Linked DNA regions of Homo sapiens: all the other regions are linked to region 1. The links come from fine-mapping of genetic effects on gene expression. A gene starts in region 1. Each other region holds a variant in brackets. All regions are shown on one strand. Distances are between the middles of the regions.

What was found. PIP is the estimated chance that this variant, and not a neighbour inherited with it, causes the effect. A credible set is the group of variants that fine-mapping cannot tell apart.
Region 2: its variant is the best candidate, but not a certain one, in a credible set for the expression of PKIA in hippocampus (GTEx, PIP 0.85).
Region 3: its variant is the best candidate, but not a certain one, in a credible set for the expression of PKIA in whole blood (INTERVAL, PIP 0.83).

The regions. Positions count from the first base shown.
Region 1 is chr8:78,514,297-78,518,545 of GRCh38, reverse strand. It overlaps PKIA (cAMP-dependent protein kinase inhibitor alpha), which reads right to left and starts at 2,206. Exons shown (of 4, transcript NM_006823.4): 1 at 2,078-2,206. All of the region lies in intron 2 of LOC105375911 (a long non-coding RNA gene), which reads left to right. RefSeq lists an enhancer at 1,532-1,641 and a silencer at 1,962-2,261.
Region 2 is chr8:77,751,879-77,756,127 of GRCh38, reverse strand. No RefSeq gene overlaps it. Among named protein-coding and RNA genes, the nearest start is that of PEX2, 750 kb to the right of the region's middle. The variant G/C (reference allele first, on the strand shown) is at 1,638.
Region 3 is chr8:78,535,927-78,540,175 of GRCh38, reverse strand. All of the region lies in intron 1 of PKIA (cAMP-dependent protein kinase inhibitor alpha), which reads right to left. All of the region lies in intron 2 of PKIA-AS1 (PKIA antisense RNA 1), which reads left to right. The region is part of intron 2 of LOC105375911 (a long non-coding RNA gene); the gene reads left to right. Among named protein-coding and RNA genes, the nearest start is that of PKIA-AS1, 20 kb to the left of the region's middle. The variant A/G (reference allele first, on the strand shown) is at 1,762.

The DNA.
Region 1 (4,249 bases):
TCAATTGTACTAATCTGTATTTCATATACCTTAGGTTATTTAGAATAACTATATTAAAATTCATTATTATTCTATATTAGTATTATTCAGAATAATGATGTATATGGTTAAGTATTTTAATAGTAGAAAAAAGGTGGTAGAATACAGGGTTTGTTGTTGATCTTGTTCTTTGTTACCTCATAGTTAATGTGACTGAGTAAAAATTCTAGAATCTCAAGAAGTTAATATTTCAAACCAAAACCCTGTTTAACACATAATAACAACAACAAAAAAGGAACATAAGGTTATTAAGACCCCAAGGGGCAGTTCCTGGAGTGGATCACTCAGTAGTGGGCTTTGCCCACCCCCTACACCCTCACCCTATGCCTCATATACTGAAGATGGAGACAAAGAAACAAATTCAAATCTTTCTAAAGTGCATTTTGTAAAAACGAAATTTGTAATAGAAAGGCAATAATGATATATAATATGATTAACACGATTTTCCATACTAGTGTCTTTGCTTAAAAATAATATTTGAAGAGGAAAGAAAGAGGTAAAATTTTAAGCTACCAACTCTGCCCCTCTTTTTCATTGATCTTCTAATTTAATTTACTAAAATAAAATTGCATGGCTGTTGAGTCAGACAGTCTCTGTAATTTTAAGTTTAAAGATAACAGATCTTCCTTTAAATAGAACATTGGCACACAGATACCCCACAATCTGGCTTATTGCAACTGTTCTCTGTTGGTGAAGTGGCACGTTTGCAATCCCCATAACAGCCATCTTAACCATTTCACAGCATATTATTCAAATGTACATCTCTAGGTGGCAACAAGGATAGGCACTTGGGCTCAGTAGCAAGGGGTCTGTGGGGAAAATCCTAGGACGAGGGATAGGAACCTGCAAATGGCAAGACAAACTAGAGGATACTCAACCAGAGGCTTAGATTGGGCAGCTCCATTGGCTTTCTGACTGCCTACGAGGAAAACCTCACTGGAAACTCTTTTGAGGTTCTTGAGGAATCCTAGAGGCAAACGGACTCCTCTGCCTTTTGGAAAGGATTTGTCCCAAATCTTAACAGCTAGCTGTCTCAAAATCCAACTGGACTAAAATTGCTTCAAGAAAAACTGGATGGACTGGCATTCACATTTTTACTTCTACCTATGCCTATGCATAGGGAACATCCCTCACACTCCAGTAGATTCTATCTGTCCTCTCTAGCTTTCAAGTAGCCACAGTGACTACAGCGAAGGGAGTTAATGGGATAACATGTTGGTACAGGGCCACAAGCAGGATATTTCATTCCATGCATTTGGGGGAAGGACACAGGTAACAGTATACAGGGAGAATACCGAATAAGAAATCTGTGTGAGGCAATGCCCTTTTTGGGACCTTGACAAAATCAGTCATGGAACCCAGGTGGTGGATAAGAGCTGACGAGAGTTGGTCTGTGAATGGGCACAGCATCTCCGAAAAAGATCAATGAAATGATTGACAGAGAAAATGGCAATTGAAGGAAGAAGCGATGTCAAGTGCTGCTCAACCCAAGCTGAACTCCAGGAGATAAGAGAAGTTTCCCCTCCAGATAGAGGCTCTTTCTAAAGGTTCAGTCTTGAAGCAGGTGTTTTGCCATTGAGAGGGGCACAGACCCATTCTGATAACTGGAAAGGGAGAGGACCAAGGACTACAGGAAGAGGGACGATTTCTGATTACCTCAGGCTGCTGCCAGGGACCTACTGCTCCAAATCCTCAAAATACTCAAGCGAAGGTAAAAGGCACAGAAAGCAAAAGAGTAACTCAAATTATTTTAAATTTTGAGTCCTCTTCACTGTCTACGCGAATCTGGCACTGAAATGGTAGATCACGTTCAAAAGAGTATAGAGGCAAGAACGCCTTCTTTGTTTGCCCAGTAACACTGCTCCTCCAACCTCTGCACTTGGCCGCCCAACATTTCCATCCTAGTTGTTGCTCCTTTTCTCATTGCAGAATGCAGCGGGGTTCTCCCCTTCTTCCCTCCGTGCTGCAAACCCCATTATTAACCAAGCGGAAAGCTCCACGCAGTGCGGCCAGGGCGCACCGGTGCCGGGCTGCTTACCTTCCCCGGACCTAGTCAGCGCAGGTCCCCGCGCACGCCGCCACGGGCCGCAGTCCCGCCGCGCCCGCCGAGTGCTCGGTCAGCTCGCGCCGGCCCGCGCCCCACCTGCCAGCAGCAGCCTCCGCTCCCGCCGCGGAGCTCCGGCTGCATGAAGTCATCCCCGCCCCGGGACGGATCACCACATTCCGCGCCAGCCACGGGGGGAGCGGGGCCGCTCCCGACCCCAGGGAAGGCAGCCTGGAAACGGCGCTCGACGATCGCTGCCCCGCGAGGTTGTGGATTGATTTTCTATTAATGCTTTTACAGCTGCAGCATCGCTGGATTATGGATTGAGAGAGAAGAGCCAGGGGGGCTTTCTCTGCATAGCGTCCTTCCTCCGAGCGCTCCCCCGTCACCCCGGCTGCATGGACTGTTCCATTTGCCCCTGTGGGTTTCCCACCCTCTTCATCTTCCTTATCAGCATTGTTCATTTGGCTGAATTTGAGAGCAGGAATTGTCTTTTAAGATAAACATTCAAGCACTACAAAAACATTTTAAATTGGTAATGAAGCTTTCTAAGCCCTTCATAGCTCTCTCCATCACCCCCGCCCCCGCCAACAGACACACACGCAAACACACACACACACGCACACACGCGCGCACACACACGTATGCACACAGCCAAACCACTCACAATTTTGAAAGCTAGAACCTTTCGCCCTCTCACCTACGTAATAGAACGGGAATCTCCTAAAAGACTGGAGAAGTGGGGCCAACCAGAGAAAGCGCTCAAAGAAACAGTGGGGTGGCCCCATGATTTTGTTGTGTTTATGGTGCACTTGTGCACAGATGTTCCCTCTAACATCTCTTCCTCCTACTTCCTTTGCTCTGGACCCCCTCCCCTCCCTGCCACATAATTGGGCAAACTGTTGTGGTGACAGCTGTAACATTTGGGAATCAAAAAGCAGAGTCTACATTAGCAAATGACTATCTCTCTTTCCCTAAGGATTTATGAAAATTTGCTTTGGGAATGAAATAAGCATGTATTCATATAAGCCCTTTCCTTCTCTTTTTAAATTAACACTAGCTGTTAACAAGACTGTTCTCTCTCCCCCACCCTCCCGTTTTGCTTCTTTCCCAAATCTCTTCAGGTTTGAGGGTTGAATGTTTAAGGAAAAATGGGACTAAATTTGCTCTCTTTGTAGCTGAGCCAGGGTTTCCGCCTAGCTGTTGAGTCATTTTCCAGTCGGGAGGTTCCTTGACACTAGGGTTCTGTGGAATGGAGTTCCCTCTTTTAACTTGCCTTGCTGTTTGAATTGACCGTCACTTGATACAGGCCAGCTTTACACTATGGATTTGTCCAGCAACCTAAACAGTGCAATTGCACAAGGCCAGGGAAGCACCTTTGCTAAATGAGATGTTTCCATCCATCTATCAGTCCCAAAGTTAGGTGATAATGTAGCCAACAGCTTTCCAACAAAACTTAGTTAGAATTCTTGGTCATAGAATATATGCTCTTTGAAAGCTAGAACAGCTTAATTCATCGCTCTGAGACTCACTTTCATAACATTAGCCCGTTAATATTACCATAGAGCAGGAGATTCTTAATCTGTATAAATGGAATTCTATTCATATACTCCTTTTATACAGATTAAGTATAATGGGAAAAATCTCATTTTTAGTTTCACTAACTTCTAACTGAAATTTAGCATTTAGCATGTCCTTTAAACATAATGTAGGCAACAAACCACAAGAATGTTAGGAGTACCTGGGACTTTGTTTCCAATAGAAACAACAGCTAATTCCTTATTGCTGTTTTTATAGATATCTCTATCACTACACTGATGTTATAATCAAATCATCACTACTTTTTTTATTTAATAGACTATATTTTTCAGCTTTGGTGTCCAGAAAAATTGAAGAAATAATACAGGGTGTTCCCATATATCCCATTCCCAGTGTCTCCTATTGACATCATACAATAGTAAGGTACCTTGGTGTAATTCTGGCATTGCTATAAAGAACTACCTGAGATTGGGTAATTTATAAAGAAGGGCTGGTGGTTCTGTAGGCTGTACAGGAAGCATGATTGGGGAGGTCTCAGGAAACCTATAATCATGGTGGAAGGCAAAGGGGAAGCAGGCAGGGCCTACATGGCTGGAGCAGGAGAAAGAGAAGGGGGAGGTGCTACAC
Region 2 (4,249 bases), 760 kb after region 1:
ATCTAAAGAGACCTGTAACAGTAGCAACGTGGCATTACTAATCAATACACTTAAAACATTGTAAAGCCCAGGACTCAATGCTTTCCACAGAACACTAAAAGAATAATTAATGTGAAACGTTAATAAACTTTTAAAAAGTTAAAGAGGATGGAACAAACTCAATTCGCTCTAAAAAAGCCAGTTTAAAAACACAAACTGCAAAAGGTCATCCAAGAATACGTAGATAAGCTAAAAGACTTTATATCTTTTAAAGATACTGAGTTTGTAAGAAAAAAGAAATCTGCCCACAAAAATTGTCCAGGCCCAGATGACTTTATTGGAGATCTACAAATAATATCAATTCTACACAAAGTTTTTTGGAAAATAAAGACCAGGGAACACTTCCTAACTAATTCTATGAGACCACTATAACAGTGATACCAAAAGCAGATGAAGACATTGAGAAAAACAATACAGGAAAGAATTGCAGAGCAATATCCTTCATAAAAATACAACACTTTAACAACACTTACTAAATTAAATCCAACTATATAAAAAAGGGATAATATATTATGAACAAATAGAGTTAATCTCAGGATTGCTAGTTTGGTTTAACATTCAAAAACCAATTTGTATAATTCATCATATTAATAAATAAGAAAGGAAAAAACTATGATAATCACTCTCAATATATGAAAAAAAGCCTGTCAAAATTCAACATTCATTTGTTATAAATACCATGAGTAGATGATCCTTCCTCAACCTAATAATTGGCATGCTTCGAAAACCTGCATTTAATATTAAAGCCAGATGGAGTACACATTTTACCACTCCATTTATATTTAACTTTATAGAAAATGCAAATGAATCTATACCATCAGAAAGCAGAGCAGTGGTAGTTAGGGGTTGGAATGGAGAGTTTCAGGGGTGGGCAAGAGGTAAAGATTACAAAGAGACCCATGGAAACTTTAGGACTAAATCTATATTAATTGATGTGATTGTGGTTATGGTACAGTGACATATAAATATTTCAAAACTTATCAAATTGTACATTTTTCTATATGTAGTATATTGTATATTAATTATGCCTAAAGAAAAGCATTAACATAGCGTGTGCTTTGATTTCATCAGAAATAACTGTAAAGGAATTTTTAAAAAATCTTTAAATAGACCAAATGCAATCTAACGTAATAGGATCAAAAACATTTTCTTTTGAGGAAACAAGAGCTTGAAATATGAACAGTTTTTGGAAAGGAGTAAAGTTCAGTAAGACTTAATTACCTAAATATAAATTAAAGTTTTTAAAAAATGTAATTATAATTTTCTATAGAAACAACAATATAGTTTCATCATGGAAACTACTGGTGAATATCTTTACATATTTGACAAGTGAATAAAGTATGTGGCATATACATTCTGTCCATAGAAGAATTTAAAAAATTTTTTTAAATATTTAATTTTTTAAAATATCTATTTTCCCTTATAGCCATTTAGAACCTTTTTGTCAAAATTATAATATTGAATGTATTTGCCATCTGTGGCTATGCATACAAAAGTTGCAAGTATGTCTTATTTTCTTCCTGAATACTGTATCATCATGTCTTTGCTTCCTTTCTCTTTGAAGGCCAGAAGATGTTGTGCATTTCAAACAGACAAAT[G/C]AAGCTGTAGAAGATTGTTTCTTGAAGGACTCAACCAAATAAGAAATATCTAAAGTTGCATGCCTCGTTGTAAAGGAAGTATATTAAACATACACTCTGACAAAATTAACACAGCAAGATTGCACTTACACTGTATAATCACTACACAAAAAGCCAATAATCACTTTGTTCAAAAGAGATAATGCCACATAATATAAGTAGTAGTTTAAGCAATTATCCAGTAGAACAGTTAATCATCACCCTCAGTTCACAGCCTTTTGTTTCTCACCAATACACATGTCAGATTGTAATTAAATGCACTCACACTGTTCAGGGCAGAATGAGAGTCCTGGGTTGAAATGTGGGAACCAAACTGAAAAGCACAATAAAGACATGTTTAGACAGCTTTTTAACTGTATCTGCCTGGCATGGGGTCTTGGTTGACAAATTGGCTATATAAGGGTGAAACCACACTGGGGCACCTTATTTATAGAAAAAAATAATTTATGCCTATAGAAAAGTTATGTTATTCTGTTTATAAATTTTCCAAGCGTTGACTTTCTGAGTGAATTATTTGCCAGATATATATTTTTTGAAATTAAATTTATAAGAAAAGAGAGTTTTTAATTGCACTGGTTTGTTCAAACTGTTTTATGATAAATATTTTAGAAATCTAAACAATGCATCTGGATCTCCGTATCTTCTCTTTCACTTCTAATAAATAATAATATAGGGTTCCATTTGCAGTTACAGTAGCAAAGTATGCTACAGTATAATTTTGCTATTTGATTATTGTATTTCTATCCCCTGAAACACAATAATCAAATAGCAAAATTATATTCACTTCTGTTGAAATTGCCTTTTTACAACTTTATAATTTTTAGTAGAAAATCATGATTTATAAATATAGATAATAAAAATATTCAGAATCAAATGCAATCTAATACCATAATGAAGTGGATGGTGAAATTTTCATTCTTTCAATATAATCACAATTTCATGATTACTATGGTTTTGTTTGATAATGTGATATTGACTTCCATGTCCTTAACTCTCACCCAACTTTCCTACTGAGCTCTGTACCTATGTATCTAACAATCTACTAAAACAGTACCTTTCAAACTTTAATCTTTTAATCTTTCTATGCACAATTTGAGAAGTTTACACAGCACAGTTATAGTGGTATAATTTTTGGTGTTTGACTGTGTACATGCTATAACTAGTGAGTTTTGCACGATGGTTTCTTATTGCTCATTAACATTCTTTTATTTCAGATTGAAAACCTTTTACCATTTTTGTATGACATGCCTGGTGTTGATGAAATCCCTCAGCTTGTGTTTTATTTTATCTTATTATATTTTTAACTTATATTTTAGATTAGGGGTTTGTTATATAAGTAAACTTGTGTCATGGGGATTTGTTGTACAGAGTACTTCATTACCCAGGTATTAAGCCTAGTACCCAGTTGTAATTTTTTATCCTCCTCTCCCTCCTCCCACCCTCCACCTTCAAGTAGACACTAGTGTCTGTTGTTTTCTTCTTTGTTTTCATGAGTTCCCATTATTTAGGTCTAACTTATAAGTAACAACATGCAGTATTTGACTTTGTGTTCCTTCATTAGTGTGCTAAGAATCATAGCCTCCAGCTTCATCCGTGTTTCCACAAAAGACATGATCTTGTTCTTTATTATGGCTGCATAGTATTGCATCGTATATATGTACCACATTTTCTTTATCTGATCTGTCATTGATGGACATCTAGGTGGATTCCATGTCTCTGCTATTGTGAACAGTGCTTCAGTGAACATTCACATACATGTCTCTCTATGGTAGAATAATTTATATTTCTCTGGGCACATATCCAGTAATGGGACTGCTGGGTCTGGTGGTAGTTCTGTTTTTAGCTTTTTGAGAAATTGCCAAACCTCTTTCCACAATGGTTGAATTAAGTTCTACTCTCACCAACAGTGTATAAGTGTTCCCTTTTCTTTGAAAACTTGACAGCATCTGTTTATTATGGTCTCTTTAGTATTGATTCAGTTTCAGAGCTCAAACTGGTCTGTTCAGGGAATGAATTTCGTCCTAGTTTAGTCTTTGGAGGGTATATGTGTCCAGGCATTTATTCACTTCTTGGTTTTCTAGTTTGTGTGGATTGAAGTGTATGTAGTAGATTCTGATGGTTATTTTTATTTCTGTGGGGTCAGTAGTAACATCCCATTTATCATTTCTAATTGTGTGTATTTGAAGCTTCTATCTTTTCTTCTTTATTCATTTAGCTAGCAGCCCATCTGTCTTACTATTTAAAAATAAAAGCTCCTGGATTTGTTAATGTTGTGAATGGTGTTTTTTCTGTCTCAGTTTCCTTCAGTTCAGCTCTAATTTTGGTCATTTCCTGTCTTCTGCTAGCTATGGAGTTGATTTGTTCTTGACTCTATTTATTTCAGTCTTGATGTTAGGTTATTAATTTGAGATCTTTATAACTTTATGATGTGGACATTGAGTGCTATGAATTTTTTTATTAACATTGCCTTAGCTTTGTCCCAGAGATTATGGTATGTTGTAACTTTGTTCTCATTAGTTTTAAAGAACTTCTTCGTTTCTACCTTAATGTTATTATTTACCCAAAATTCGTTC
Region 3 (4,249 bases), 22 kb before region 1:
TCGTAGGGAAGCAAGTTACACCCTTTTATTGCCTTATTCATTCTCTCCATGCATCTCCTACAATCAGGCTTCTGATTCACTTTTTTTTTTTTTTACTTCATTTCTTCTCTGATGTTGTAATTGTAAGAAGAAAATGAACTTGCCACACTCCTCTTTCTTCTTGACCCCAATGAACTATGAAACTGCTAAATATTTTTTCCTATCTCTTTTATCTAGCAATCTATCCTCAAAGGTGTGAAATCATATAATGTGTAAGACAGAATTGTTCTCTCACATAAAACTGTAGGTGTATGTTTATATATATGCAATTAGAGAAATCTTCACATTCAAATTAAATTCGTAGAGGATCATGCATTATATGTAATATAATTAGGTTTATTACATATAATTATATTACATGTAATTCTAATGTGAGGATTTCTTTAATTAATTTTACCCTTTAAATTTAAGCACTGCAGGTAATAAATATTTTTGTCCTTGTGGACTACATAATCACATATTCTTCATTTTTTTTCCTTTTTTTACCTTTTAAAAATGTAAAAAGCATTCTTAGCTAAGAATGGGTTTGGCTTGTAGATTATAGTTTACTGCTGTGAATTATAGATTGCTTACTGCTGCTTTAAAATAAAAATCTCTGAGTTAGAGAAAAACAACAAAACTCAATAATCAGTATTGATGTTAGATGTTCTACATCTCAAGAAGTACTATGGAGAAAATATACTTATCAATTCCCAAGAAATCTGAGAAACAGAAGTAAATGGAGTCAGATCATTTATGAATAAATCAGACAAGTTTTTAATCCACTTGCTTATACCCCTGAGTCTCCCTTTTTGTTTTATGCAACTGCCATTTCCTGAAGATGATTTCTTCCTTACATCGAGACAGGGTTCTCAGCCTCACCTCAGATTTCCTCATGTGACAAAAGAATTATCATGTTCATTTTCTCAATCTCTTATCACATACCACTTTTATCTTTGATATAGCCCAAATGTTACTGTTCAGAAAATTATTTCTTTTGCCCATTAATTGGATCTCATCAACCTTTTCCTCCAAATGTTTTATGCCACATTTAATTAACTCAAATTACTCACAGCTGATTTCCAGGCCTGCCAATATACCACTTCTGCCTTTCATTACTCACCTTGTTTCTCTGCACTTTTTTGGTCTATCATTTTTGCCTCAAATTTCTCATATTTAAAAAAGCCTCCTTGTCATAGCATGCATAATTCACTCATAGATGTGGAAGAAACAGATGTAATACCTTTCTGCCAAGACACCCACACTCTCTCACAATGCCCAGTCATTTTTCCCTGGGTTGTGTGTAGGATGGGTCATTAATATTTTGACCTATTCAATACTAAGCCACATATGCTACGGTAACACCTCCAAATTCGGCCTGTCTCCCAGGCTGTCAACTTTAGATCAAGCTTTGTCTCTTGACCATCTTTGTTCCCTAGGGGAATAATTTCTAAACTAATTACACCACAAATTTAATATATTACCTCAGCGCACACCAAGAGCTGCCAGATGAGGTAAAGTGCAGAAACAGTTTCTGAAGAGTTTCATCAGGATCTACTACCGTATACCTGACACTTTTCTTAGTATTAGAAGCTTAATATGGCAGTGGTTGTCTTTGTGACAGTTTGGACACCAGAATCACTGTTATTTACTACTCCAAAATAAGCTTGAATGCCTCTTTCCTTCTCCTTGAGAATTATTCTAGTTAGTCTTGAAACTTTGATGTAGTTGATCTTCAAGACA[A/G]GTATTGCCATAAATGTCCCTGCACCTGACTTTCAAGAAAACTCATTACTCTCATATTTCCCCAGGATAACTATAGAAGTTTAAAACAATAAAGAGTAGTACCATGAGAGAGAAATAAGGTGGGTTGTTGTTCATTTATTCAATGTTTATGAATAGTTGTCATGCACCAGGCATTTTGCTTTTGATGCCAGAAATAGCAAACAGTTCCTGCTTTCAATGCCTCCCTTAACAAAGTCCATGAGTTTCCATCAGAGAGAATAGTATAAAGAGTGAGTTAAGAGCCAGCATAGGGTATGGGGGTTATATGTCAGCACAGGGACGTAGAGAAAGAACAAGTTTAGGGCCAGCATAGGGTATGAGGGTTATATGTCAGCACAGGGACTTAGAGAAAGAAAAAGTTTATCATGAAATACTTTTGGAGACCAGGACACCTGATTTATGTTTTGAGGAAATTTAGGAGTGTGAAAGACAAGAAGGTTCACAAGTGAACCTTCTAGGCAGCGGCAACAGCATGATTTAAAGCAAGAAAACATGAAGAGCAATGGTGGTTCAAAAGAACTGTCAATAGATAAGTATGTCTGCAGCAGAAGGCCCATTTGAGGCAGTAGCACAAAAGATGCATGCTTGCTAGCAACCAAAATTTGCAGTGGATAATCTACTGTAAGGATGCATCACATTTTTATTTTCTTTCATTCTAGAAGTATTTAGTGAGTGGCTCCTATGTGCCAGTAATTATTGTAGGTAGGTCCTGCAATGAAAAAATAATAAAAAGCCAAGACCCTGATCTCATGGAATTTGCACTCTAGTTGTTGGCGGTGGGGGGTGGGACGGAGAGGGGGTTGGGAAATAAAGTAACTCAAAAATATATCGGTTATCGCATAGAAACAAATATGTGGATAAAATTGAAGACTTTTGGTGGTGCTGGAGGTGGTGTAGATTAGAAAGGGCTTTTTAGACTATCTCTTTAAGGACTTGTTCCCTTGTGGCTTTCCACCTCTTAAAGGCAAGGAAATGTCTACCCTTCAGACAATAGAGAGCAAGTATTGGAAAAATTTAGTCAGTTAAGCTTCAAAGTCTAAAATCTTCATAGAGATAAATTTTGCTAAAAGTTTATAGCTATCTTTTACTGTATCAGAGAATTAGATGGATAAATCCAAATAATTTTCTACCTAGGAAAAAAATATCAGGGTTTGCCATGAAAGAAGCTTATGAGTAAGAAGCTTAAAAAAAAAAAAAACTAAACTAAACCTTGTTACTTGGGGAAATTTTGGGAAGAAAAGAGCTGGTACAGAGGTTTATCAAAGGAAGTGGCCTATAGATCCCTCAGCCCCTTCATAACTGGTCCCCAAAACCCTGAGCTCTATCTAGGTCTATATACTAAGTTCCTCCAGCCATATGCCCTGACACTTCTTAGAGAAGGAAAGGTAAAGTTGTAGACTCAGAAGCATTATTTGAAAGAACCACTCAGATATGGGAGTTGACTGAGATGCCAGGATTAAAATGTAGTGTGTGTGTGTGTGTGTGTGTGTGTGTGTGTGTGTGTGTGTGTGTGTGTATGTTTTCTAGCTACCCAGATAAGTTACAGATTATATAAAAACATATTTTCTTTCTACAGTAGAGTTGTAATCTATTTTGTAATCCTGCTGCAGTAGCAAGATACACAAATATTTCTGGGTAAATACATGGACTATTCGGGGTCAAAGAAACTCTTATATATGCTTTCCCAAAGTTCAAAAAAGAAGATACACAGCTTTTTGAGGAAAAATAATTGAGTAATAATTCTCATGCAATTGTTTCTTCTACCTTCCTTGGATTTTTCCATTTCAGAATGAAATGCAGTTGCCACCTTGTCCTCAGGCTAGTTAATAGTATTTGCACCTTTTTAGACTATGGACTATCACAAATAAAGACAGTAACTAGAATTGGATTGTCTACCTACATCAGACTCCTCTTCTTTTTCTTTCAAAGAAATTTGTGCTCACTACTTCCAGAGTCTCTAACCAGAGCTCAGATGGTTTTCCTTTATTTTCATAGCCTCTCATTGTCTCTGAGGCAGCTGTACTTCTTTCACAAAATACATATATCATGTTTTTGTTGCAATATCATTTTTGTTTGGAATTGCTTTTTTTCTTTATAACTAATGTTGGGTAAGGAACAGCTATCATTTGGCAGTCTTAAATATATTTATAAATAGAAAAATGTATTCTTTTAATTTTAAATAGTAATAGGACAAATTTCAGAAGCTAAAAATATACAGGTCATACCCCACCAGTCTTGATAGGGTTTTGTTTGTGGTTTTTTTGGTCTTGTTTTTTAATAACAGAGGAAATAAATTACCATTATTATTTGAAACTTAGACTGATGCAGAGGGAGGTTAAAAGATTAAACTGTGAGCCTGAGCTTGAGCAGAAAGGTAAGATTGTTCTTCCTGATTCCCTCAGCGAGTCACTGATTCAGAGGACCATTTACAGTCATCACCTGGCAGCGT